Homo sapiens: one gene and its partners. The protein of the gene in region 6 purifies or fractionates together with the protein of the main gene of each other region. This does not show direct contact. Each region holds a gene or a part of one and is shown on either strand. Other genes may lie near its edges. The genes, in order: MTHFD1L, PNPT1, CLPX, IVD, VWA8, QRSL1 and ACAD10.

Region 1 (3,500 bases), about 44 Mb from region 6:
TGTATCCACGGGAGTAGCACTTTTAAATTTCTTCAATAGCTTTTCCTTTGCATTCACAGCTTGGCTAACTGTTTGGCTCAAGAGGCCTAGCTTTTGACCTATCTTGGCTTTCAATACACCCTCCTCACTAAGTTTAATTATTTCTCGGTTTTTATTTAAAGTGAGAGACCTGCAACTCTTCACTTGAACACTTAGAGGCCACTGTAGTTACTAATTGTCCTAATTTCAATATTGTTGTTTCTCAGGGAATAGGGAAGCCAGAGGAGAGGGAGAGAGAAGGGGGAACAGCCAGTCCAGTGAAGCAGTGAGAACACACACCATCATGAACCATCATGGCCACGGTTTGGCCAACACAATTACAACAGTAACATCAAAGATCGTCAATCACACATCACCAGAACAAACATACTAAAAATGAAAAAGTTTGAAATATTGTAAGAATTATCAAAATGTGACACAAATTGAGCAGATGCCATTGGAAAAATGACTCCCATAGACTTAAAACACAGGTTGCCACAAACTTTCAATTTGTAGAAAAACACAGTATCTGTAAATTGCAGTAAAGCAAAGCACAAAAAATGATGTATGCCTGTATTTTTTTTTCTATCCACATCCACCCCCCAACTTTTTTTTTTTTTTTGGTAGAGACCAGGTCTTGCTATCTTGCCCAGGCTGGCCTTGAACTCCTGAGCTCAAGTGATCCTCTCACCTCAGCCTCCCAAAGTGCTGGGATTACAGGCATGAGCCACTGCGCCCAGCCCCCATCCCCAACTATTTTAAAAGTCTAATTACTTTTTGACGATTGCCGACTTACCTATAGAAGTGTTCCTTTCAGCCCGGCGAGGTGGCTCACCCCTGTAATTCCAGCACTTTGGGAGGCCTAGGTGGGCGGATCACGAGGTCAAGAGATCGAGACCACCCTGGCCAACTTGGTGAAATCCTGTCTCTACTAAAAATACAAAAATTAGTGGGACGTGGTGGCATGCACCAGTAGTCCCAGCTACTCAGGAGACTGAGGCAGGAGAATCGCTTGAACCTGGGAGATGGAGGTTGCAGTGAGCCGAGATCGTGCCACTGCCCTCCAGCCTGGAAACAAAGTGAGACTCCGTCTCAAAAAAATAAAAAGAAGTGTTCCTTTCATCAACTATGAATGGATCAAGACTATGAATGTTTCTGAGAAAATTATTGCTGTTAGTAAGAATGTTTTTAGTGTTTAAGGGTAGCTTTGGGGCACAGAAAAAAACAAACGTACATTTATAAGAAAAAGGGGAAAGAGCCACTGTAGTATACCTGTTTTACAGATGAGGAATCTGAGACTCTTAGAGACTTGTCCACGCTAGTAAATGAAATGCCCAGTACCAATCCTGGGCCGTATTTCCACTTAGTGTCTCAGAATTACCTGGACTCTGTTAAAAATGCACATTTCTGGGCTCCACTGAGACACGTTGAATCAGACTTTCTAGGGCTGGAACTGTTATTTTTTTTGAGACAGAGTCTCGCTCTGTCACCCAGCTGGAGTGCAGTGGCATGATTTTGGCTCACTGCAGCCTCTGCCTCCTGGGTTCAAGTGATTCTCCTGCCTCAGCCTCCTGAGTAGCTCTGGGATTACAGGTGTGCACCACCATGCCTGGCTAATTTTTGTATTTTTACTAGAGATGGGGTTTCACCATGTTGGCCAGGATGGTCTCAAACTCCTGACCTCAAGTGATCCATTTCACCTTGGCCTCCCGAAGTACTGGGATTATAGGTGTGAGCCACTGCACCTGGCCTGGAACCTTTACTTTTACCAAACTCTCCAGTGATCCTTATACCATGAACCGCTTGGGTCCCACACTCCGGTGCTTTCCTGGACCCAGACAAAAATAAGAACCCAGCATAGCCAAATTAACAGTCACGACAGGCTGGAAAGAGTGCGGTATATGGGCCTCAGTCACCCATTATTGGATGGATGGATTTTAGTGCTTATTTATAAGGTGATTTGTAAACTTTCCCATATGGTCACATTTATTCAGCACAATAATACAATTAATTCCCTGGGAATGAAGTAGCTTTATCCCAAGTGTTTCCAAACAAAACTAACTGAAATGTTCCCAGGTTATAGACAGTTGCCTGCACCCAGTCCATCTGTTCCGGCCCAGCTGGCAGTAGAAAGACTGGTCCTGGTTGTGAATCTGAGCAGCTCTCTCCCCTAAAGCCCCGCCTGGGAACTGCAGTGCCTCTGGTTCCATTTGTCAGCTGTGTCTCTCTGAAAACTGGGGAAAGCTTCCCGATGCCTTTCTGCTCTTGGCAGTGTACCGTTGATGGCATTGGCTGGAACTTCTTCACCCCGCATTTTTGTTAGGTGCAGTGCAAGACCCTGTCGGAGACTGAAAACAAAATGTAAAGGTGGTCTTAGCACTGAAGCCTGGGGGCTCCTGTGGCTGCGCCTTTGGTCTATTGTGAGAGGGGGAAAAGCCAGCTCCCAGTGCTCATGTGCTGCTGAGAACATATCATAGGGTGGTGGCGAAGGTAGCCTCTGCAGTCACTCATCCCAGAAGGTTCCATAAAGAGCTGAGCTCCTAACACTTTTTTTTTTTTTTGAGACGGAGTCTTGCTGTGTTGCCCAGGCTGGAGTGCGGTGGCACAATCTCGGCTCACTGCAACCTCTGCCTCCCAGGTTCAAGAGATTCTCCCGAGTAGCTCAGATTATAGGCGCCTGCCACCACACCCAGCTAATTTTTGTATTTCTGGTAGAGACGGGGTTTCACCATATTGGCCACGGTGGTCTTGAACTCCTGACCTTGTGATCCACCCGCCTCAGCTTCCCAAAGTGCTGGGATTACAGGCGTGAGCCACCGCTCCTGGACTTTTTTTTTTTTTCTTTTTTTAAAAAGAAATTGAGTCTTGCTCTGCCACCCAGGCTGGAGTGCAGTGGTGCAGTCATAGCTTACTACAGCCTCAAACTCATGGGCTCAAGCGGTCCTCCAGCTTCAGCCTCCCAAGTATCTGGGACTACAGTCACGTGCCATCACGCCCAGCTAAATTGTTTATAGAGATGGGATCTCGTTATGTTACCCAGGCTGGTCTCAAACTCCTGGTCTCAAGCAGTCCTACCGCCTTGGCCTCTCAAAGTGCTGGGACTACAGGTGCATGCCACCATGCCAGGCCTTCTACCACTTTTACCTAGGCCTGCTCACCCCAGGCTGGCACCTCCCTCAGAGGTGGGAGGTGAAGGTGGCTGCTGCTGGGCATTTAGGAGGTACAGGTGCAGACTATGTTGTGGATTCTCAGAGGACTGAGAAGCTCTCTGTCTCTCTCTCTAGGAGGCTTTGATAGTGTTATCAAAGTGGGTCTCCAGTGTTTCTGGAACTTTCCTCCCCTTCCTTCCTTACCTAATTCCTTCTTTAAATTCCAGGACCTGGAATTTATCCTGTCTCGACACTTCTTGTCCAACAGTGAGCCCCCTGTCTTCACCCCCCTAATCCCCTGTCTTCACATCCCTCTTCCCACTTTATTTGCTT
Region 2 (3,500 bases), on a different chromosome or scaffold from region 6:
CCTCAGCCTCCCGAGTAGCTGGGACTACAGGCGTGCACCACCACACCCAGCTAATTTTTGTATTTTTAGTAGAGACGGGGTTTCACCATGTTGGCCAGGATGGTCTCGATCTCTTTTTTTTTTTTTTTTTTGAGATGGAGTCTCACTCTGTTGCCCAGGCTGGAGTGCAGCGGCGCGATCTCGGTTCACTGCAACCTCCGCCTCCCAGGTTCACGCCATTCTCCTGCCTCAGCCTCCTTAGTAGCTGGGACCACAGGCACCTGCCACCACGCCCAGCTAATTTTTTGTATTTTTAGTAGAGTCGAGGTTTCACCGTGTTAGCCAGGATGGTGTTGATCTCCTGACCTCGTGATCCGCCTGCCTCAGCCTCCCAAAGTGCTGGGATTACAGACGTGAGCCACCGCGCCTGGCCTGGTCTCAATCTCTTGACCTCGTGATCCACCTGCCTTGCCCCCGCAAAGTGCTGCAATTACAAGTGTGAGCGACCGTGCCCAGCCGTATTAAGTGACGTTTAACATCCTTTCCAAACTTGGGCTTCTGTTTTATGCGTTAATAAATTCTGTTGTGCTTTTCTAGAGAAAGTGATTTTGGTATTTTCTTCTATAGTAATAATTGGGGAATTTTTCCTTATGTATAGCCACATAAGAAGTAGAGAATACTATTCAATTCATTGAATATGACTAAATTACCTGTTAATCTTTCCTTATTTTGATTCCATAGCTTTTGAAAAGCTCAGAGATCAAGATTGGACTACTTGTGAATATTTTTTATTTCATAATCGTGTCGTAGAATTAGATATCTTTTCTTGAGTTTAATTGGAGTAAGGATTTATTCAGTTGCTACTTAGATGCTAATATCTGATTTCAAAGGAACTTACCAGCGTTGTTCTTTATGTTTAAGTCAGGTGACACTGCAGTAATGGTCACAGCGGTCAGTAAAACAAAACCTTCCCCTTCCCAGTTTATGCCTTTGGTGGTAAGTATTTGCTGATTTATCTGAACTGTAATATGGTCTGAGTAAAGTGTAGAATGTATAATATTTTTGTCCAGTGTCTAGTGAGTGGAAAATACAAACTTGCACAACAAAGAATTTTTCCTAGTTTTTTGATACTGATTCATTAAAAGAGTATAAACTGCTTCATAAACAAATACTAGGATTAAGCATACTTTAGAATTTGGAACGTCCAGGTGCGTAAGTTGACAAGAAGATTGGAAGTGCATGAGTACTTTGACATTGAATAAGCAATGAATTCATTGCCCTCATAGTTTCCCTTCAGTATGACTCTGCAAGTACAGTCAGCCCTCCATGTCCTTGGGTTTTGCATCCATGGATTCAACCAACCATGGATCGAAAATATTGGGGGAAAAATTGCATCTGTACTGAATATGTACAGACTTTTTTTCTTGTCATTCCCTACGCAATACGGTATAAAAACTATTTATGTAGAATTTACATTGTATTAAGGATTATATGTAATCTAGAGATGATTTAAAGTATATGAGAGGATATACGTAAGTTATAAACAAATACTATGGTGTTTTACATCAAGGATTTGAGCATCCATGGATTTTGATATCTGCAAGAGGTCCTAGAACCAATCCCCCAGGGATACCAAGAGACAACTGTGTATATTTAGTAATGAGCTCATGAGAATTTTATAGCTCCCTTCTATTATGAAAAGGGGTGTACAATTATATTTAACAGAGTTGATACCAAAAAAAAGCAATGTTTGACTTGATCAGAATGAGCATCTGTGGCAAATAGTGAGTCTTCTTCCACTTTTACTGTTGAGTAGAAGACTTTTTTTTTTTTAAGAGACAGGGTCTTGCTCTGTCACCCAGGCTAGAGTTGTTCAGTGGTGTGATCATAGTTCACTGCAGCCTCAAACTCCTGGGCTTAAGCAATCCTCCCACCTCAGCCTTCTGAGTAGCTAGGACTATGGGCACAGGCCATTGTGCCCAACTAATTTTTTTTTTGTTGGGGGTAGAGACAAGGTCTTTCTGTGTTACCCAGGCAGTTCTAAAACCCTGGCCTCAAGTGGTCCTCCTGCTTTGGCCTCCCAAAGTGCTGGGATTACAGGCGTGAGCCACTGCACCTGAACGTTTTTTAAAATCACTTTGCAGAAACATTTCTATCAACTTTCCTCTCCCCAAAAGATACAAAATGCTAAGTAAATAACATTTTCTACTCTGAGTCTAGACTGTGTTGTTAGCAACCTCAGGAGAATTAGCATTCATACAGTATAGTTTGTTTCTGCAAAAAGAATTATATGAACTTTTTTTTATTGCTGCTTCAGGTTGACTACAGACAAAAAGCTGCTGCAGCAGGTAGAATTCCCACAAACTATCTGAGAAGAGAGATTGGTACTTCTGATAAAGAAATTCTAACAAGTCGAATAATAGGTAAGATATTAACATAGAGGCGTTCATCTTCTCTGGTATGCCTATGTTAGCATCTCTTCTCTTGCATCTGTGTTCTACAATAAGTCTTAAGTTTTCCTTCATAGCATTAACACCACCTAAGATTATTCACTCCTTCTCTTCCCTCACTCAAATGTGGGCACTGTGAAAGAAAAAACTTTTATTTCTTCAGGGTTGAATCCCTAGTACCTGTTATACTGCTTAGCACAGAATAGGCATTCAATAAATATTTGTTGACTAAATGAGTAAATCTCTATTGAGCATATGAATTTTTTGGCCCATGCCTCTACTTTGTTGAATCTATTCCTAGTACATTTTTTCATGTTCAGAATAGTAATTCCTAAACATTATGTTCATCAGCTACTGAAATATGTCCATAATCTTTCAAATCTTTAACATCCCTACATATTGTGGGATCATATGTAATTTATAGCTCTTCTACCCAGAAATTGCTTTTTTTTGAGACAGAGTCTTGCTCTGTCACCCAGGCTGGAGTGCAGTGGCACGATCTCGGCTCACTGCAACCTCTACCTCCCGGGTTCAAGTGATTGGGATTACAGGTGCCCACCACCATGCCTGGCTGATTTTTGTATTTTTAGTCAAGATGGGGTTTCTCCATTTTGGTCAGGCTGGTCTTGAACTCCTGACCTCGTGATCCACCCGCCTCAGCCTCCCAAGTGCTGGGATTGCAGGCGTGAACCACTGTGCTCGGCCAGAAATTGCTATTTTATGTATATTTATATACAGTCTTCAGACACAAAGTAGCAAGGAAGCATTTTCTTTTGGTCTGCTATTGGTCTTAAGTCTCTTTGCTCTGCTTATATATGTAACTGTTGCCTGTGGAACCAGAATGAAAAATTGCTCCCCAATCTTTATTGTTAATGTGCTTCTTCTGTGTTTGTTTTTTGTTGTTAGGGCATGGTATGTAATAATGGAAGCACTGACATTTATCTGTGTCCCTCTTAGTAAATCAGTCCAAGGGGATTTTTCTTGAAAACATATTGAATGGCTATCTATATTAGTTCAAACGTTTTGAACTGTAAAGCAACTCTGTCAGTACGGTTTAATGTGTTTTTTTTT
Region 3 (3,500 bases), on a different chromosome or scaffold from region 6:
AGGAGTTCAAGACCAGCCTTGGCGACACAGTGAGACCCTGTATCAAAAAAAGAAAAAAATATATTTTTAGAAAATAAAAAAAAATAAGAATACAGTTTTTAGAGTCTCAGATAAATGAGTAGCTTTAAAGTTAATGTCTGAGAAAAAATTAAATTTACTAAAACACATAGATACTGATAGTATAATGGCTTTTGATTATGTAATGCCTGTTTCTGAAAAGAGTAGTTTTATAATGTTATCTTTGTGAAGAATGTTATTCATTTGATTGACAGGTATGGATTTATTTTAATGATTTACATTAATGTTGATACTTTTAGACCATGGTGGCATGTGTATGTATTCTAAGTTACTTTAAATTTAATTTGTTATCAAAAAATAAAGATTGATAGCATTGTTTATAGAATAGAAATTAGCACAACACTAGTAGAGTACAGTGATACTTTGTTAAGCTAGAGAACAAATGAATTGTGTTTTTGTTCATTTAGTGTTCAGGGCCTCTGAATCATTGCTATATAATGTATTGTCATTTTGTTTTTAATGAGAGTCTTTGTTCAGATTTAAAACTGTAAGCAAATATGCTTAGTAAATAACTTTTTAATGTGTGTGCTCTTATAATAGCTCATATTAAATTATTCATACCTAATCATTTTTCAGATTTATAACTACCTCGACAAGTATGTTGTTGGCCAGTCATTTGCTAAGAAGGTGCTTTCAGTTGCTGTGTACAATCATTATAAGAGAATATATAATAATATCCCAGCTAATCTGAGACAGCAAGCAGAGGTTGAGAAGCAGACATCATTAACACCAAGAGGTAGCGTTTTTGATAATTGACCTAAATAGAGATTGCTATGCTTAAAAGTAATCTTTATTTGTAACTCCTCACTTTCTTCTTAAAATGTTTTTTATATAGTGTGGCATTTTTCAAAGTGCAGGTTATTCCCCATTAGTGTGTTATGAAATCATTTGCCAACAGCATTTTTTAAAAATTTGATAGATATGAATAGAAAATAACAGAATACATTAACTTACAGTTAAGGTAAATATTATTTCTTAGGCCTGGCATGGTGGCTTATGCCGGTAATCCCAGCACGTTTGGAGGCCGAGGCGGGGGGATCACTTGAGGTCAGGAGTTCGAGACCTGCCTGGCCAGCATGGGAAACTCCGTCTCTACTAAAAATACAAAAATTAGCCAGGTGGGGTGGCACATGGCTGTAGTCATTATACAGTATACTGTATAATCTCAATTTACTATGGACAATAATGTATATTAATAGAATGATTTATTAAAAACAATTATGCATAGAGTAAATATGAATATTTAATTTTTTGTTTTGTTGGCCAGACAGCCCCAATTTCTGATTTAGGCCTATATTCCATCATTTTAGATTCTTTTAGTTATCACTGTACAGTGTGAAGGAGTTCTGCTAAGTACTTAAATTTATAAGTCTACATTATCTTTGATTGCCTTTAGTAGCAACTAAATGTATAATTTATTTCAATGAAGACACTTGTTCACTTGCTGAACTTACATCACATAACTGCAAAATAGGTATGTGATGGTATCAGTTATTTTTAGAAAGTATAAGTCATAACTAACGGATGACTTGGAACCTTTTTCTTTTTTTCAAGACAAGGTCTCTCTCTGTCACCCAGGCTGGATTGCGACTCACTGCAGCCTCAACTTCCCAGGCTCCAGTGATCCTCCCACCTCAGTCTCCCAAGCAATCCATCTGCCTCAGCCTCCCAAAGTGCTGGGATTAATAGGCGTGAACTCTTGCGCCTGGCCTGAAATCTTCATTTTTATAAGGTCCAAATAGCACTGATAGTTATGGAGCAAAACTTTTTTGTTTTCCTCGGTAATAAATAGATATTTAAGCTATTCTAAGTGCTGGAGGAGCAAATGGTTATAATATTTATAGCATGAGGGGCTTAAACTCTTATTAAAGACTTATGTTATTATACCCTTACAATAGATATCAATTATATATTTGACAAATGTGAATATTAGCAACTGGACAGCGGTCTTTATGCATGGTTTTGTTTTAATATAGAAAAGATATAGCATATATGAAAAGCTGAAAAATGTTAATGAACAAATCCTTTAAATATATTTGAAAGAGGACAGGAGGTGGGATACTCATTGTTTGTTCCCCCAAGGTAAACAAATATGTAATATTTTCATCCTCTTTCTTAGAGTTAGAAATAAGAAGACGGGAGGATGAGTACAGATTTACAAGTAAGTGACTTCAGGTCCTCCTCTGTAATCATTCTTCCTTTTGACATTTATTTCAGTGAAGTGTTTCAGCAGTAACAGTGATAGACATGTATGTATTTGCTTGTGTATTACCAAGAAAGATACGTATTATCTAAATGTGTTTATCCTACATGGTATATATAACTTTGGAATAGTTTTTCATAGCTAATTTGTGTCGTTTCCATATGTTGGGTTATTTTTTATTTTTTCTATCAAACTACAATTAGAGTTGGCCTGCTTCTTGTGGGTCACAGGAATTTGGGGGAGGCAGATTATTTTCTAGCTACTCTTTGCCAGAAAGCACACTGTTTTTTGGTTTTTTTTGTATTTATGAAACTTACAGTCTTACAAATTATGAGTAAGTCTTAATTCACTGTTTCCAGCCCCAGATTGCCCCTACAAGCATCAGATGGTCCGATGGAGGGTGTGGAAGGACTTGATAGACCAAGGAGAGTGGCCTTTCTGTTGTGTTCCACCTATTCCTTTGGAGGTGGATATAGTTAGTTGCTGCATTGAGGGTGGAGGTTCCAGGGGTGTCATAGAAAGATTCACATGGCCTTTTGTTTTAGTAATTGAAATAAAGAAAATTAGCTAAGTTTGATGTTTTTACATTTGCCTTTGAACCAAGTAGTATTATATATCCACTATTTGAAGTGTACTATATATAGGATGAGCCATGAGAATATAACTTGTGTACCAACTTGGGCATGACATTTATCACATGTAATAAAATTACATTATCCCCAGTTATTTTTAAATTTATAGAAATACTGATTATACCATGCGTGGTAAAATTAAGAAATACAGTAAGTGCAATAGAATTAGATTGTATATAAGAATGTAAAATCTAAATAATAACCTTTAGGTATATATGTAATTTATTTCATAATAAAAAAATATATTCAGATATGCAGTCAATACCATACTCATAAATTGTGTTGACAGCTAGTTAACCTATACTAAATTAGTAAAGAAAGTCTGTAGTGCATATTTTGAAAGACATGTCATGTAATATATGTAGTGATTTAATGTTATTTAAATGTTAACAAGTAACAGTATTTAAGAACTTATGTAAAAGATTGACTTAGAAACAAATATTTCAAAAGCTTAAATTTATTGTCATGTGCAGTTTTGTTGTGTTTTACATGGGATTTTAAGTTCTAAAGTTAGGTTGTTAACTAACACTGGCTGGGGGTGTTAGACCCTAACACTGGTCTAGGGTTTTAGACCAAAATCATGTACA
Region 4 (3,500 bases), on a different chromosome or scaffold from region 6:
ACAAAATTAGCTGGTCATGGTGGTACATCCCTGTAATCCCAGCTACTCGGGAGGCTGAGGCAGGAGAATTGCTTGAACCTGGGAGGCGGAGGTTGCAGTGAGCTGAGATTGTGCCACTGCACTCCAGCCTGGGCAACGGAGCGAAACTCCGTTTCAAAAAAAAAAGCCCAGCCTGCTTGGGCCTGTATTCACTCTGGGCATGAGAGTATGAGTGGAACCCAATATACTTCTCCTTACATCCTAGAAAGTTATATCACCTTTCATAAAATGAAACCACTTGAAGATTAATTGAAACCATCTTAATGTAAAAGCATTAGGGGAAAGGCTGCTGGGTACTCCTAAGCAAGACTCTCCTACTGTGTTTTGGGGGTTTATGTACCCCACTCCCTGCAGACAATATGCTTCTGAATCAGATTGTATTTTACGGAAGAAAGAGGCAGTTAGAAATCAGATGAAAATGGCCAGGTGTGGTAGTGGGCTCCTATAATCCGAGTGACTCGGGAGGCCAAGGCAGGAGGATCGCTTGAGCCCAGGAGTTCAAGGCTGCAATGAGCCATGGTTACACCATTGCACCCCAGCCTGGATAAGAGAGTGAGAGCCCGCCTCTTGAAAAAAAAAAAGAAAAGAAATCAGATGAAAACTCTTTCAAGGGAACCTGAAAAAGAAAGCTGGTTACAAGTTCTGGTTTCTGCATGATGTCATGGTGGCTGTTTCTAATGTCACCTGCCTTCAGGCTTTCCTTCCTGCAGTTGTAGGGGCAGGTCAAGGTTTCCTTAGAGCCTAGAACGAGCCTGACTTATTGGTCAGAGTGAACATGTGTATAGGACCTTGCTAGGCTTGACCCAATCAGCAGGGCTGGGGGTGGTATCAGGTGTCTCAGCCACTTGGAGTTTGGATCTGCTGCCAAGGAAAAACCGTATATTTTATGAGGAGTTCTGAAATTCTCTGCCAGCATCTCATCTGCCCTCTGCTGTACAGCTCACCTCAAGATTTTCCCTGAGGCTGTGGCTCTCCTGTCCTGTCACCAGTCCTGCTTCTTTCTTTTTTTTTTTTTTTTTTTGAGACAGAATCTCACTCTGTCGCCCAGGCTGGAGTGCAGTGGCGCGATCTCGGCTCTCTGCAAGCTCCACCTGCCAGGTTCACACCATTCTCCTGCTTCAGCCTCCCGAGTAGCTGGGACTACAGGCGCCCGCCACCATGCCCGGCTAATTTTTTGTATTTTTAGTAGAGACGGGGTTTCACCGTGTTAGCCAGGATGGTCTTGATCTCCTGACCTCGTGATCTGCCCACCTCAGCCTCCCAAAGTGCTGGGATTACAGGCGTGAGCCCCATGCCTGGCCTCCAGTCCTGCTTCTTTGGGTTCAGCCCTATGCTATAAAATCTCACCTTCCTCAGGCCTTTTGCAGACACATCAGATCCTCTGGCTTTGTATCTGTTCTTGGTGCTTTGGACACCACCTCCACCCCAATGCCTTTGTTTTTCTCCAGGCCCTCTTTCTTCATTTATTCATCTGCCTCTGCATTTCTGTAACTTTCTGAGTAGTGGGTGCTCAGGTTGTTCACGTATCTTCATCAAGAAGTCTGTCTGGGATAAAGCAGAAGTTGCAATGATTGCCTTCTGAATCACCCCTCAGCTGAGGAGCACCAGCAGGCAAAACCAGTCCACTGAGCTTGTAAGCAGGTCTGTGGCATCAGCTTATTCTTGTTGCTAGAGAGAATTTGGAGTAGGTGCTACAAGGTGCTTCCCTTCTGCCGTCAAATGTAAGATTCTTAATGAATGTCCCGATTTAATCTGGGCTGCGTTTTCCACTCCCTTGTACCACACCACTCACAGTTCAGTATGGCGGCTCCGGCCTGGGCTACCTGGAGCATGTGCTGGTGATGGAGGAGATATCCCGAGCTTCCGGAGCAGTGGGGCTCAGTTACGGTGCCCACTCCAACCTCTGCATCAACCAGCTTGTACGCAATGGGAATGAGGCCCAGAAAGAGAAGTATCTCCCGAAGGTGAGGAAATGGAAATGTAATACACGCTAATCTCACAGTGCAACCACCAACTAAAAGATACCCTCTCCCCTTGGGGGCCAGTCAGACCTGCTTTCTGTAGCATGCTGCCATGAACCAAATGTGGTTAGGAAGGGGCCATGGATTGCTTTAAAATACTTGAGCCAAAAATAATAAAAATAGGACCAGAACTCTTGCATTGAACAACAGACAGACAACATTTGAAGAGAACTCTAAGAAATGGAAGAGTAGGACTAGCTTCCTTTGCAAAGGGAATGGAAAAAGGAGAGGCATTTTCAGCCTTGTAGCCATTGGGCTTAGAAGAGACTTCTAGGACTTTACCGACACCCTGGTCTGAGAGCGAAGTTTGAAGGGGTTTAATGTGGACAGGAAGAGGCAGTACCAGTGAGCTGCTCTAGGGTACTCTGAGGTTGTAACAAGGCCTGTTGGGGGTTTTCCTTGCAGCTGATCAGTGGTGAGTACATCGGAGCCCTGGCCATGAGTGAGCCCAATGCAGGCTCTGATGTTGTCTCTATGAAGCTCAAAGCGGAAAAGAAAGGTGAGGCCACTCTCAACTTGGGAGCCAAAATGGGCAGAGGTACAGACATTATCAGGATAATGGAGCAACAATTGTGGGTGGCCCCTGCTGGGTTTCCAGAACTTTCTCAAAGGTGGACAGCTTCTTGCTCAGCAGAAGGTCTATGGCCTGGCTGAGACAGGCCAAGATGGCTTGAGCAAATAGCCAACATCCTGCCCTTAGGAAATCACTACATCCTGAATGGCAACAAGTTCTGGATCACTAATGGCCCTGATGCTGACGTCCTGATTGTCTATGCCAAGACAGATCTGGCTGCTGTGCCAGCTTCTCGGGGCATCACAGCCTTCATTGTGGAGAAGGTGAGTATAGGTGGGTGCAGGGCCAGGAGGCTTCTGCCTCCTGACAGTGGTACCAGAGATAGCCCGTTCACTGATCTCAAATGGAATCAGTGTTGTGTGCTCTGCAAGGCCCCCAGAGGTGGGGGTGAGGCAGAGAGCAGACTGCAAGGAGGGTGACCAAAAGTCCAGGAAGTCCAGGGCAGATGGGTCACTTCTGAAGACGGTGGAGCCGTCCTCAGCGCCAGGCCACACAAAGAGGTCTAGAAAGGGGAGGACTAAAAGGAGGTCAGGACATGACGGTCAGGGTACCATTGGTGGATCTGATGAATGTGGCCATGGGAGACTGAGGTGTGGGTGGGATGCAAGTGGAGACTGCCCCTGCAACAGCCTTGACAACAGAAGCAAGAAGGAAGCAGAGCAGGAGTTCCAATGAAAAGTTAGGAGTTTGGGTTTGTTTTTAGAAATGAGAGAACTGAGCAGATTTTTTGGTCAGAAGGAAAAAAAAGGGAAGAAAAAAGAAAATAGAGGGAGAAATTGAAAAGTGTGGGAATGAGTGGGCAGAACACAATGGTGAGCTGGGGCAGAAGAGAGAAGGATGGGTTACAGGTGATGGTGCAGGAACCA
Region 5 (3,500 bases), on a different chromosome or scaffold from region 6:
GTTTGCATGTGCTTTTTTCTTTTTTTTTTTCCTGAACCATTTGGAAGTAAATTGCAGTCAGTACTCTTAAATACTTCAGTGTGTGTATCAGTTCGTTCTCCCGCTGCTATGAAGAAATACCTGAGACTGGGTAATTTATAAAGAAAAGAGGTTTAATTGACTCACAGTTCTGCAAGGCTATGGAGGCCTCAGGAAACTTACAATCGTGGTGGAAGAGGAAGCAAACACGTCCTTCACATGGTGGCAGGAGAGAAAAGTGCAGAGTGAAGGAGGGGAAAAGCCCTTTATAAAGCCATCAGATCTCATGAGAACTCACTATCATGAGAACAGCATGGAGGTTAACTGCCTCCATGATTCAGTTGTCTCCCACTGGGTCCCTCCCATGACACGTGGGGATTGTGGGAGCTACAATTCAAGATGAGATTTGGGTGGGGACACAGCCAAACCATATCAGTATGCAACTTCTAAGAATTAGGACATTCTTCTACATAACCAGAACAACATTATCACACTTCATATCATGTTAACAGTAATCCATAGTATCATCTAATAGATAGTTCATATTGAAATTTCACTAATCTTTCTTGTCAACAGACTTTTAAAGTGGGGTGAACAGAATTGACAGTGCAGATAATGTGAGGAAGGATTTGAGGATAATGAATACTTTCTAATTTTGTAGTTATAACTGTGAAGCTAAGTGAATGTGGATGAGATTAACTTAGGAATAAAAAGGGATCAGGTACTTTGGGATGAATAAGGTAGAGACATGTATTCTGTTTCAAATGGGGGTCTATGGGATATTCATATAGTCACATGTAATGAACAATTGAGGGTTCAGGTTTAGAGCTCAAGAAAGAAGTCAAGACCAGACATAGAAGTGTGGGAGCCATCAATACATAGAAGATAAATGAAAGATGGGAATGGGTAAGCTTACCCAGAGAAAGGGCAAGGAATGAGAAGAGAAAATAATGAATATTTGCTTTTGTAGACTTACAGAAAATACCAGACACCTATTGGTTACTTTTATAAGTCAATTTTAATGTCATATGTACATTTCAGATGTTTTCTGTGATTATTTTGAATTTTGCTCATTCCTATGTATTTTTGCTCCTACATAGGATTCCTTTCCTATGATGCCAATCAAACATGCAATCCAGTGGCTTTATCCATATAGTATTTTACTAGGTCATGAAGGGAAGATGGCTGTGGAAGGTGTTTTAAAGGTGAGTGTCTGCTTCCCTTTCTTTCCTTTCTTTTCCCATTTTCCCTTCCCTTGCCTTTTCCCATCTTCCCCTCACTCCTTTCCCCACCTTTCCTATTTTTCTCTCCCCATCCTTATTTCTTTCCTTTCCCTTCCCCTCCATTCTTTACCAGGCATGGAGGTATCAGCATTCCAACAAGAAGACAGCTGTGATAAATAGGGCAGCAAACACACAGGGGCTGGTGTGATTGGGAGATTGGTTATGTTGAGCAAATAAGTAAATAGATTGAGCAAATGAATGAATATATTAAGGATAATAAGAGTTATGCTTCTCACTGTTGGATGAGGGATTTATAACCATGGAAAGGGGGAAGGCAAGAAAAAACTCTAAGGTATTGGATTGGAATTGGTGTTATTATGAATCATGACTTTTTTTAAACAATATATATGAACAAATAGATAGAGATAGTATGTGTATATGTATACATACACATATTTTCTAGCTGTCTCCTAAGGCAGCCTAAAAACTATGATGTTCTCATATTTAGTTAAAAAAATAGGATTGCTCTCCCTCTCCCTCTCCCTCTCCCCACGGTCTCCCTCTCCCTCTCTTTCCACGGTCTCCCTCTGATGCCCAGCCGAAGCTGGACTGTACTGCTGCCATCTCGGCTCACTGCAACCTCCCTGCCTGATTCTCCTGCCTCAGCCTGCCGAGTGCCTGCGATTGCAGGCGCGCGACGCCACGCCTGACTGGTTTTCGTATTTTTTTGGTGGAGACGGGGTTTCGCTGTGTTGGCCGGGCTGGTCTCCAGCTCCTAACCGCGAGTGATCCGCCAGCCTTGGCCTCCCGGGGTGCTGGGATTGCAGACGGAGTCTGGTTCACTCAGTGCTCAATGGTGCCCAGGCTGGAGTGCAGTGGTGTGATCTCGGCTCGCTACAACCTCCACCTCCCAGCTGCCTGCCTTGGCCTCCCAAAGTGCCGAGATTGCAGCCTCTGCCTGGCCGCCACCCCGTCTGGGAAGTGAGGAGCGTCTCTGCCTGGCCGCCCGTCGTCTGGGACGTGAGGAGCCCCTCTGCCTGGCTGCCCAGTCTGGAAAGTGAGGAGCGTCTCTGCCCGGCCGCCATCCCATCTAGGAAGTGACGAGCGCCTCTTCCCGGTCGCCATCCCATCTAGGAAGTGAGGAGCGTCTCTGCCCGGCCGCCCATCGTCTGAGATGTGGGGAGAGCCTCTGCCCTGCCGCCCCGTCTGGGATGTGAGGAGCACCTCCACCCGGCCGCGACCCCGTCTGGGAGGTGAGGAGCGTCTCTGCCCGGCCGCCCCGTCTGAGAAGTGAGGAGACCCTCCGCCTGGCAACCGCCCGTCTGAGAAGTGAGGAGCCCCTCCGCCCGGAAGCCGCCCCATCTGAGAAGTGAGGAGCCCCTCCGTCCCGGCAGTCACCCTGTCTGGGAAGTGAGGAGCGTCTCCGCCCAGCAGCCACCCCGTCCGGGAGGGAGGTGGGGGTCAGCCCCCGCCAGGCCAGCCGCCCCGTCCGGGAGGGAGGTGGGGGGGTCAGCCCCCCGCCCGGCCAGCCGCCCCGTCCGGGAGGTGAGGGGCACCTCTGCCCGGCCGCCCCTACTGGGAAGTGAGGAGCTCCTCTGCCCAGCCAGTCGCCCCGTCCAGGAGGGAGGTGGGGGGGTCAGCCCCCAGCCCGGCCAGCCGCCCCGTCCGGGAGGTGAGGGGCGCCTCTGCCCGGCCGCCCCTACTGGGAAGTGAGGAGCCCTCTGCCCAGCCGCCCCTACTGGGAAGTGAGGAGCCCCTCTGCCTGGCCACCACCCCGTCTGGGAGGTGTACCCAACAGCTCATTGAGAACGGGCCATGATGACAATGGCGGTTTTGTGGAACAGAAGGGGGGAAAGGTGGGGAAAAGATTGAGAAATCGGATGGTTGCCGTGTCTGTGTAGAAAGAGGTAGACATGGGAGACTTTTCATTTTGTTCTGTACTAAGAAAAATTCTTATCCTGTTGATCTGTGACCTTACCCCCCCCCCCCCCCCCCCGGCAAAAAAAAACTATGATGTTCTAGTAGCAGTGATCATACCAAGTACCTGGACATTGGTTTCTAAATACCATGCTCTCTAAAAGGATTAGGTCAGGGAATGCAGAAGATGAGCCTGGACCATCTTTTTGTGCCAGAGAGTAAGGAAATATTCAACAAATGATGTCGATATGTCAAAATGATGGAGTTCCCAGGTTGAAGTGGCTGAAATCTGGGACAATTTGAGCATAAAAATAAATGATGATGGTAATTGGTTTTAACCTG
Region 6 (3,500 bases):
GCTTGAGCCCAGGAGTCCTAGATCAGCCTGGGCAACATAGTGAGGCCCTGTCTCTACAGAAAAAAAAAATTAAAAAAAACAGGGAAAAGTATTAGTGACCTTGAATTAGTCAGAGTTCTTTTAGATAGGACACATGAAGCACAAATCCACTTAAAAAATTGATAGACTTGGCCGGGCACGGTGGCTCACACCTGTAATCCCAGCACTTTGGGAGGCCGAGGCAGGTGGATCACAAGGTCAGGAGATTGAGACCATCCTGGCTAACACAGTGAAACCCTGTCTCTACTAAAAATACAAAAAATTAGCCGGGCGTGGTGGCGAGCGCCTGTAGTCCCCGCTACTCAGGAGGCTGAGGCAGGAGAATGGCATGAACCCGGGAGGCAGAGGTTGCAGTGAGCCGAAATCACGCCACTGCACTCCAGCCTGGGTGACAGAGCAAGACTCCTTCTCAAAAAAAAAAAAAAAAAAAAAAAAAAAATTAATAGACTTCATTAAAATTAAGAACTTCTGTACTTTGAAATATGCTACTAAAAAAGTGAAAACGCAAGCCACAGACTGAGAGAAAAATATTTGCAAAACATGTATCTCAGAAAGAACCGATATCCAAAATACATAGAACATTTCACACCTCAATAAGAAAACAAGCAACCCTATTTTTAAAAAATGAACAAAAGATTTAAGAAGACGTTTCATCAGAGATTAAAACATAGTTGACAAACACATGAAACAATGCTTAATATCGTTGATCATTAGTGGAATTCAAAATTAAAATCACAGTGAGCTTGGGCACAGTGGCCCACACCTGTAATCTCAGCACTTTGGGAGGCCAAGGCATGGTAGTGGATGCCTGTAGTCCCAGCTACTCGAGAGGCATGAGAATCGCTTGAACCTGGATCACTTGAAACCGGGAGGCGGAGCTTGCAGTGAGCCAAGATCATGCCACTGCACTCCAGCCTGGGCAATAGAGCGAGACTGTCTCAAAAAAAAAAAAAAAAGAGAGAGACAATGATAATTAAATGGAAGACCTGACTCTAGATTTGATCCAGGAAGGAGATAAAATGCCATAAAGTACTTTTTTTTTTTTTTTTTTTGAGATGGAGTCTCGCTCTGTCACCCAGGCTAGAGTGCAGTGGCGCGATCTCGGCTCACTGCAAGCTCCGCCTCCCGGGTTCACACCATTCTTCTGCCTCAGCCTCCCGAGTAGCTGGGACTACAGGCGCCCGCCACCACGCCCGGCTAATTTTTTGTATTTTTAGTAGAGATGGGGTTTCACCGTGTTATCCAGGATGGTCTCGATCTCCTGACCTCGTGTTCCGCCCTCCTCGGCCTCCCAAAGTGCTGGGATTACAGGCGTGAGCCACTGCACCCAGCCAAAGTACATTATTGAATCAGTTGACAGAATTGAATTACATACAGTAGATTCGATAAAAGTATTGTAGGCCGGGCGTGGTGGCTCACCCCTGTAATCCCAGCACTTTGGGAGGCCAAGGCGGGTGGATTACGAGGTCAAGAGATTGAGACCATCCTGGCCAACGTGGTGAAACCCCGTCTCTACTGAAAATACAAAAATTAGCCCGGCGTGATGGCACGCACCTGTAGTCCCAGCTACTCGGGAGGCTGAGGCAGGAGAATTGCTTGAATCTGGGAGGCGGAGGTTGCAGTGAGCCGAGATCGCGCCACTGCACTCCAGACTGCCAGTAGAGCGAGACTCGTCTCAAAAAAGAAAAAAAAAATTATTGTATTGATATTAATGTTACTGAGATTGATAACTATACTGTGACTGTATAATGTGATATCCTTATTGTTAGGAAATACACACTAAAGTATTTAGGGATAAAGGGCTATGATATACATGTAAGTTACCCTTAAGATACCCTTAAGTTTCTATCATACTTTGTGTATATATGTACATATGTACAAACGTACACAGAGCACACAAGTAGTAAAGCAAAGGGATAAAATGTTGACCGTAGGTATGTCTGGGTAAAGGGTATAAAGTGCTTTATATGTTATTTTTATTTTTGCAATTTATCTGAGAATAAAATCATTTCAAAAATTTAAGTTATTAGCATTCCACTTGTAATGTTTTTCATAGAACTTCTGGTTCAGAAGTTCTTAACTGTTTGAATGTAACCCTTTTCAGCTGGAAGACCTTGATTCACAAGGGAAATCATCTTCAGTTGAATTGGATGATCAAAAGAGGCAAAATCTTTTCTTAGCAGATTAGCTTTGTCTATTTTCTACCACAAATGCTCTTCCTTCCCATCCTCCGCAACTGTCAATTAATGAAAGCTACATCTGAACAGGCTTCCCACCTTTTTCAATTCAAGCTACAGTGGGTTCTTAAATGCTCAATGAGTGTCAGAAGCAAATAATATACTCAGAAGATGAAATTTTCACATAAAATGAAAGTTTTACTAAGGTATCTTGCTTCACTTCGTCATCAGATCTGGGAGCACAGATGGTGTATTTGGACCAGTTAAAAACCCCTGGAGTTATTCAAAACAATATAGAGAAAAGAGGAAGCAGAATCCCCACAGCGAGAATGAAGATTCAGACTGGCTGATAACTGGAGGAAGCTCAGGTGGGAGTGCAGCTGCTGTATCGGCGTTCACATGCTACGCGTAAGATGCTTTTCTCTATCTGTATTTTAAAACCCACCCAAATACAAACAGTCATAAACTGTATCCAGCAATAGAGTAGTTCATATCCTGGTATTTTTCTTTCTAGTGAGCTATATGTGCTCAAAGGTATATCAAAATTATATCTTGAGTTGCACTCAACTGTACAGTACACTATGTATATTTAATACTTTTAACTTTAAAATAACAAATTTTTCTCCATAGTATCTGGTTCTCTTAAAATATGATTTTGTGGATCTTGCAGAATAAAGCATCGAACATAAATGAACTTCATTGCATTTCATTTTTAAATAATTTGAGTGTGTGCTCACTGATTATACAAATATTTAGGGACTAACATACAATGGCTTTAGTTGAGTGCTGCTGAACTAAACTGTTGGTAATGTTTATCCTTCAGCAAGATCAATCTTTTGAAAAAAAAGAAAAAATGCTAATATGTATTAATAAGATATTTTAAATAGTGTTTTCAGGAATCTGCAATTAAAAATGTACATCAGTAAGTAAAGTTTTTTCAAGCTTGTTAGGTGCTGATTCTGTTTATCTATCATACTTTGTATTTGGTAAGAATCCATTGATCATATTTTCAGTTCCATTTGTAAAGCATTTCTTAACTACCCAAAGAAAAGAAAGTAAATATGGCTGTTGCTGTGTTTATCAGTCTCAATTTAATCAAAATGAATGTGTTTCTTTAGTAATAGTTTTGTATTTTATCTCCCCTTAATTATCCATTAAAACTAAGTTCTTTCACACACATTGCAATCCATAAATCATTTATATTTTTTTAGAGCTATGGAGATGTGAGTTCTACAGATTTTTTTTCAGTTTTCCTAAAATCTTATTAACAAGTAAAACCATTTC
Region 7 (3,500 bases), on a different chromosome or scaffold from region 6:
CACTGAGGTCAGTTGTGGGTGTGATTCGAAGTGCCTGTTGGAGATGGGTTAGAGATGTCTGGCTGGCCCCTCTGAGCTCCAGGATGGAGGCCTGGTTGGGAGGCAGTGCAGGCAAGTAACGCCCTGTGCCTTCTTCCCACACAGCCTCAGCCTCACCATGTGTGTCAGGAGCTGTTTCCAGTCCCCCCGTCTCCAGTGGGTGTGGAGAACAGCCTTCCTGAAACACACCCAGCGCAGGCACCAGGGGTCCCACCGATGGACACACCTTGGAGGCAGCACCTACAGAGCGGTGATTTTCGACATGGGCGGAGTTCTCATTCCTTCTCCAGGGAGAGTCGCTGCAGGTGAGCTATTGATTCTGTTTCACTTTGTGGGACTAGAGTGGTGGTGGGAGAATGGAGGGTGATCGGGAAGGCAGAGGGGAACACTTGGGCAGCAGTGTGTCCCAGCAGGCCATGCTCTGGCTCTCGAGTCGAATTCCAAGCACCACTAGGGGGCTGAGTGTCTTGGGCGCATGATTCAGCTTCTCCAAATCTTACTTTCCTCATCATTAAATGAGCTAATGGTAGTGCCTTCCTCCTTGGGATTTGGCGGAGAGTTATCCGTGGGAAGCACTTGCTTAGCACAGTGATTGCTCAGTGCATCCTAAATTCTCAATCAATGATGAGCTGCCATGAATGCTGTGATTAGAATTTAACCACCAAGGCAGGGCACAGTGGCTGAAGCCTGTAATCCCAGCACTTTTGGAGGCCGAGGTGAGAGGGTCGTTTGAGCCCAGGAGTTCAAGACCAGCCTGAGCAACATAGTGAGACCCCGTATCTGCAGAAATTTAAAAATTATCTGGGCATGATGACAGGCACCTGTAGTTCTAGCTACTCAGGAGGCTGAGGTCGGAGGATCACATGAATCCAGGTGGTTGAGGCTGTAGTCAGCCGTGATCATGCCACTGCACTCCAGCCTGGGTAACAGAGCAAGACCCTTACTCAAAAACAAACAACCAAAAATCCCAAAGAATTTAACCACTTCTTCTTGGGAACTGTTCTACTTCTGAAATCTAGAATGCTGAAATTCCCCTTTTGATTACAGCCTTCCTCCCTTCTACCCCACTCCCTCTAAACCTGCTTCTGGACTGACAGGGTAAGGGTCAGCCCTCTGGTCTCTGGTCTTCTCTTTACCAGCCCCTTCCTGGTTTTACTTCTTTTCTACTCAGTTCAGTTTTTATTAGTTAAAGTCGTTTTGGCTTCAAGCAGTAGAAAACCTAACAAAACAGTGACTGAAACAAGCTAGAAGTTTCTTTCTCTTGCACATAAAAGCCCAGGTATGTGGTCTGGGGCACTGTGTGATGCGACTCTGTGGTATCAGGGACTCCGACTCTTTATAGCATGTTGCTCTGCTGTGACTTTTCATTTCCACTCTTACATTGTGGTCTGTCTTGGCTGTGTCGCCTCCTGCTATCATATTCTCATGCCAGCCAGCAGGAAGGACAAAGGGCCAGGCAGCCATCCCTCTCCTTTTGACCTTCTGTGGTGGCTGGTTGGCCAGTTCTCCATCCTAAATCAACCCAGGCACAGGTTTTCTATGCCTGCGTGTCTAGGCTTTCCAGCACTGCTGACCAAATTACTCAGCCGTGCTAACTGGCTGCACAAGCTGGTTTCTGAGCTCCAGCCTCAGTTGGGCCATTGGTGCTACGCCTGAGCCTCTCTGTTCCTTCACTCTTATCTCTCTGTTCCTTCACTCGTATCTCTGTCATGTTTACCTCAGGGGCTGTTCCAGACTGTCCACTCCCCCTGCTCCTTACCACCCCCAAATATTCTTGCTCTGCAGATAGCTGAATCTGTTCTTCTACAAAGAACATAAAGACTAAACCTGAGCAACACAGTGAGACCCTATGGTGAGCTAGGATTGCACCACTGCACCCCAGACTGGCACAACAGTCTTTTTTAGAGAACCTGTCTCTAAAAAAAAAGGCAGCAGGGAAGAACATAAAGATCACTGGACAGAAAGTTTCTTGACTTTCTCTAGAATATCTTAAGAACCAATTCACTTCTCTCCATTGCCACTGCCTCCACCCTTGCCTTCTCTCACCCAAATGATGTCATCAGCCTCCTAACTTCCTCTGCCTCTGGCTCTCTGGATTTTACAAAATCTCCTCCCAGCTCCAGAATTAACCTTTCTAAAACATGGATCGTGCTTCTGCGCTTAGCAGCTCACACCTGTAATCTCAGCAATTTAGGAGGCCGAGGTGGGCAGATCGCTTGAGCACAGGAGTTCAAGACCAGCCTGGCCAACCTGGTGAAACCTTGTCTCTACGAAAAATACAAAAAGCGTACCTGGGCATGGTGGTGCATGGATGTAGTCCCAGCTACTTGAGGGGCTGCGGTGGGAGGAACTCTTTAGCCTGGGCGATTGAGGCTGCAGTGAGCTGAGATTGCACCACTGCACTCCAGCCTGGGTGACAAAGTGAGACCCTGTCACAAAATAATAAATAAAATAAAAATAAAGCATAGATCTTGTTCCTTTCATCCCTGGCTTGAAAATCTTGAATGCCTGCATGTGGTCCCCTAGATTAAGTCTAGAAGCTTTCACCTGGGATTCAGGGCTCCTCTCAGTTTTAGCTTTCCTGCTATGGACTACCTGATGCTCCCCAGGCATGCCAGGCACATTTGCATGTTTGTGCCTTTGCAAGCTGTGTTTCCTCCCTGCCTCCTCTGCCTGTTCAAATCCTACTGATGCTTTTAATGGCAAATTTAAGGGGATATTATTCAGCAATGACTGGAATCTTTTGAACACTCAGTAAATCTCATGGTTGTTACTAACTTCAAGAGTCCTCTTCTGTCAAGACTTCTCCAACCTCATTTGCAACCTGGGCAGAATGTTCCTGGATAGCCAATTCCCATTAAGTTTCACCTTCACCGAGATATTTTTGTTTGCAGTGGGATATGTTCATGTCTCCTCTATGGGGCTCTTGGATTCCAGGACCCCAGGTCTGGGATTTCTTCACTTCACTGTTGCAGTGTTAGCTCTGCAGGCTGGCTCAGTCATTCAGGAAATGTTTGATGGGTAAATGTGAACAAAATAGTGATGCCTTCTACTTTGTCTTTTGCTTGACTGGAGCTTCTAATGTTATTTATTTCAAATGAACCATATCAAGGGTCATTTGATAAGAATATACTAGAATTGGCCAGGTGCGGTGGCTCATGCCTTTAATCTCAGCACTTTGGGAGGACGAGATGGGCGGATCACTTGAGGTCATGAGTTTGAGACCAGCCTGGCCAACATGGCAAAATCCAATCTCTACTAAAAATTCAAAAATAAGCGGGGCATGGTGATGGGCACCTGAAATTGCAGCTACTCTGGAGGCTGAGCAGGGAGAACCACTTGAACCCGGGAAACAGAGGTTGCAGTGAGCTGAGATCATACCATTGCGCTGCAGCTTGGGAGACAGAGCAAGACTCTGTCTCAAAAAAAAAAAAAGTATATATATATATACACTAGAATTA

What was found.
Region 1: the proteins of QRSL1 (region 6) and MTHFD1L purify together in Homo sapiens (affinity purification with mass spectrometry; one large-scale study listed by BioGRID and IntAct). This does not show direct contact.
Region 2: the proteins of QRSL1 (region 6) and PNPT1 purify together in Homo sapiens (affinity purification with mass spectrometry; one large-scale study listed by BioGRID and IntAct). This does not show direct contact.
Region 3: the proteins of QRSL1 (region 6) and CLPX purify together in Homo sapiens (affinity purification with mass spectrometry; one large-scale study listed by BioGRID and IntAct). This does not show direct contact.
Region 4: the proteins of QRSL1 (region 6) and IVD purify together in Homo sapiens (affinity purification with mass spectrometry; one large-scale study listed by BioGRID and IntAct). This does not show direct contact.
Region 5: the proteins of QRSL1 (region 6) and VWA8 purify together in Homo sapiens (affinity purification with mass spectrometry; one large-scale study listed by BioGRID and IntAct). This does not show direct contact.
Region 7: the proteins of QRSL1 (region 6) and ACAD10 purify together in Homo sapiens (affinity purification with mass spectrometry; one large-scale study listed by BioGRID and IntAct). This does not show direct contact.

What each region holds. Positions count from the first base shown.
Region 1 is NC_000006.12:150,872,202-150,875,701, forward strand, and holds part of MTHFD1L (monofunctional C1-tetrahydrofolate synthase, mitochondrial isoform 2 precursor), read left to right. Parts: intron 1-3,500. UniProt on the Homo sapiens protein: May provide the missing metabolic reaction required to link the mitochondria and the cytoplasm in the mammalian model of one-carbon folate metabolism complementing thus the enzymatic activities of MTHFD2.
Region 2 is NC_000002.12:55,683,845-55,687,344, reverse strand, and holds part of PNPT1 (polyribonucleotide nucleotidyltransferase 1, mitochondrial precursor), read left to right. Parts: intron 1-900; coding exon 901-975; intron 976-2,296; coding exon 2,297-2,402; intron 2,403-3,500. UniProt on the Homo sapiens protein: RNA-binding protein implicated in numerous RNA metabolic processes. Catalyzes the phosphorolysis of single-stranded polyribonucleotides processively in the 3'-to-5' direction. Mitochondrial intermembrane factor with RNA-processing exoribonulease activity.
Region 3 is NC_000015.10:65,161,343-65,164,842, reverse strand, and holds part of CLPX (ATP-dependent clpX-like chaperone, mitochondrial precursor), read left to right. Parts: intron 1-654; coding exon 655-814; intron 815-2,197; coding exon 2,198-2,239; intron 2,240-3,500. UniProt on the Homo sapiens protein: ATP-dependent chaperone that functions as an unfoldase.
Region 4 is NC_000015.10:40,408,795-40,412,294, forward strand, and holds part of IVD (isovaleryl-CoA dehydrogenase, mitochondrial isoform 1 precursor), read left to right. Parts: intron 1-1,833; coding exon 1,834-2,003; intron 2,004-2,465; coding exon 2,466-2,559; intron 2,560-2,760; coding exon 2,761-2,897; intron 2,898-3,500.
Region 5 is NC_000013.11:41,881,110-41,884,609, reverse strand, and holds part of VWA8 (von Willebrand factor A domain-containing protein 8 isoform a precursor), read left to right. Parts: intron 1-1,118; coding exon 1,119-1,223; intron 1,224-3,500. UniProt on the Homo sapiens protein: Exhibits ATPase activity in vitro.
Region 6 is NC_000006.12:106,646,578-106,650,077, forward strand, and holds part of QRSL1 (glutamyl-tRNA(Gln) amidotransferase subunit A, mitochondrial), read left to right. Parts: intron 1-2,447; coding exon 2,448-2,624; intron 2,625-3,500. UniProt on the Homo sapiens protein: Allows the formation of correctly charged Gln-tRNA(Gln) through the transamidation of misacylated Glu-tRNA(Gln) in the mitochondria. The reaction takes place in the presence of glutamine and ATP through an activated gamma-phospho-Glu-tRNA(Gln).
Region 7 is NC_000012.12:111,692,553-111,696,052, forward strand, and holds part of ACAD10 (acyl-CoA dehydrogenase family member 10), read left to right. Parts: intron 1-144; 5' UTR 145-157; coding exon 158-344; intron 345-3,500.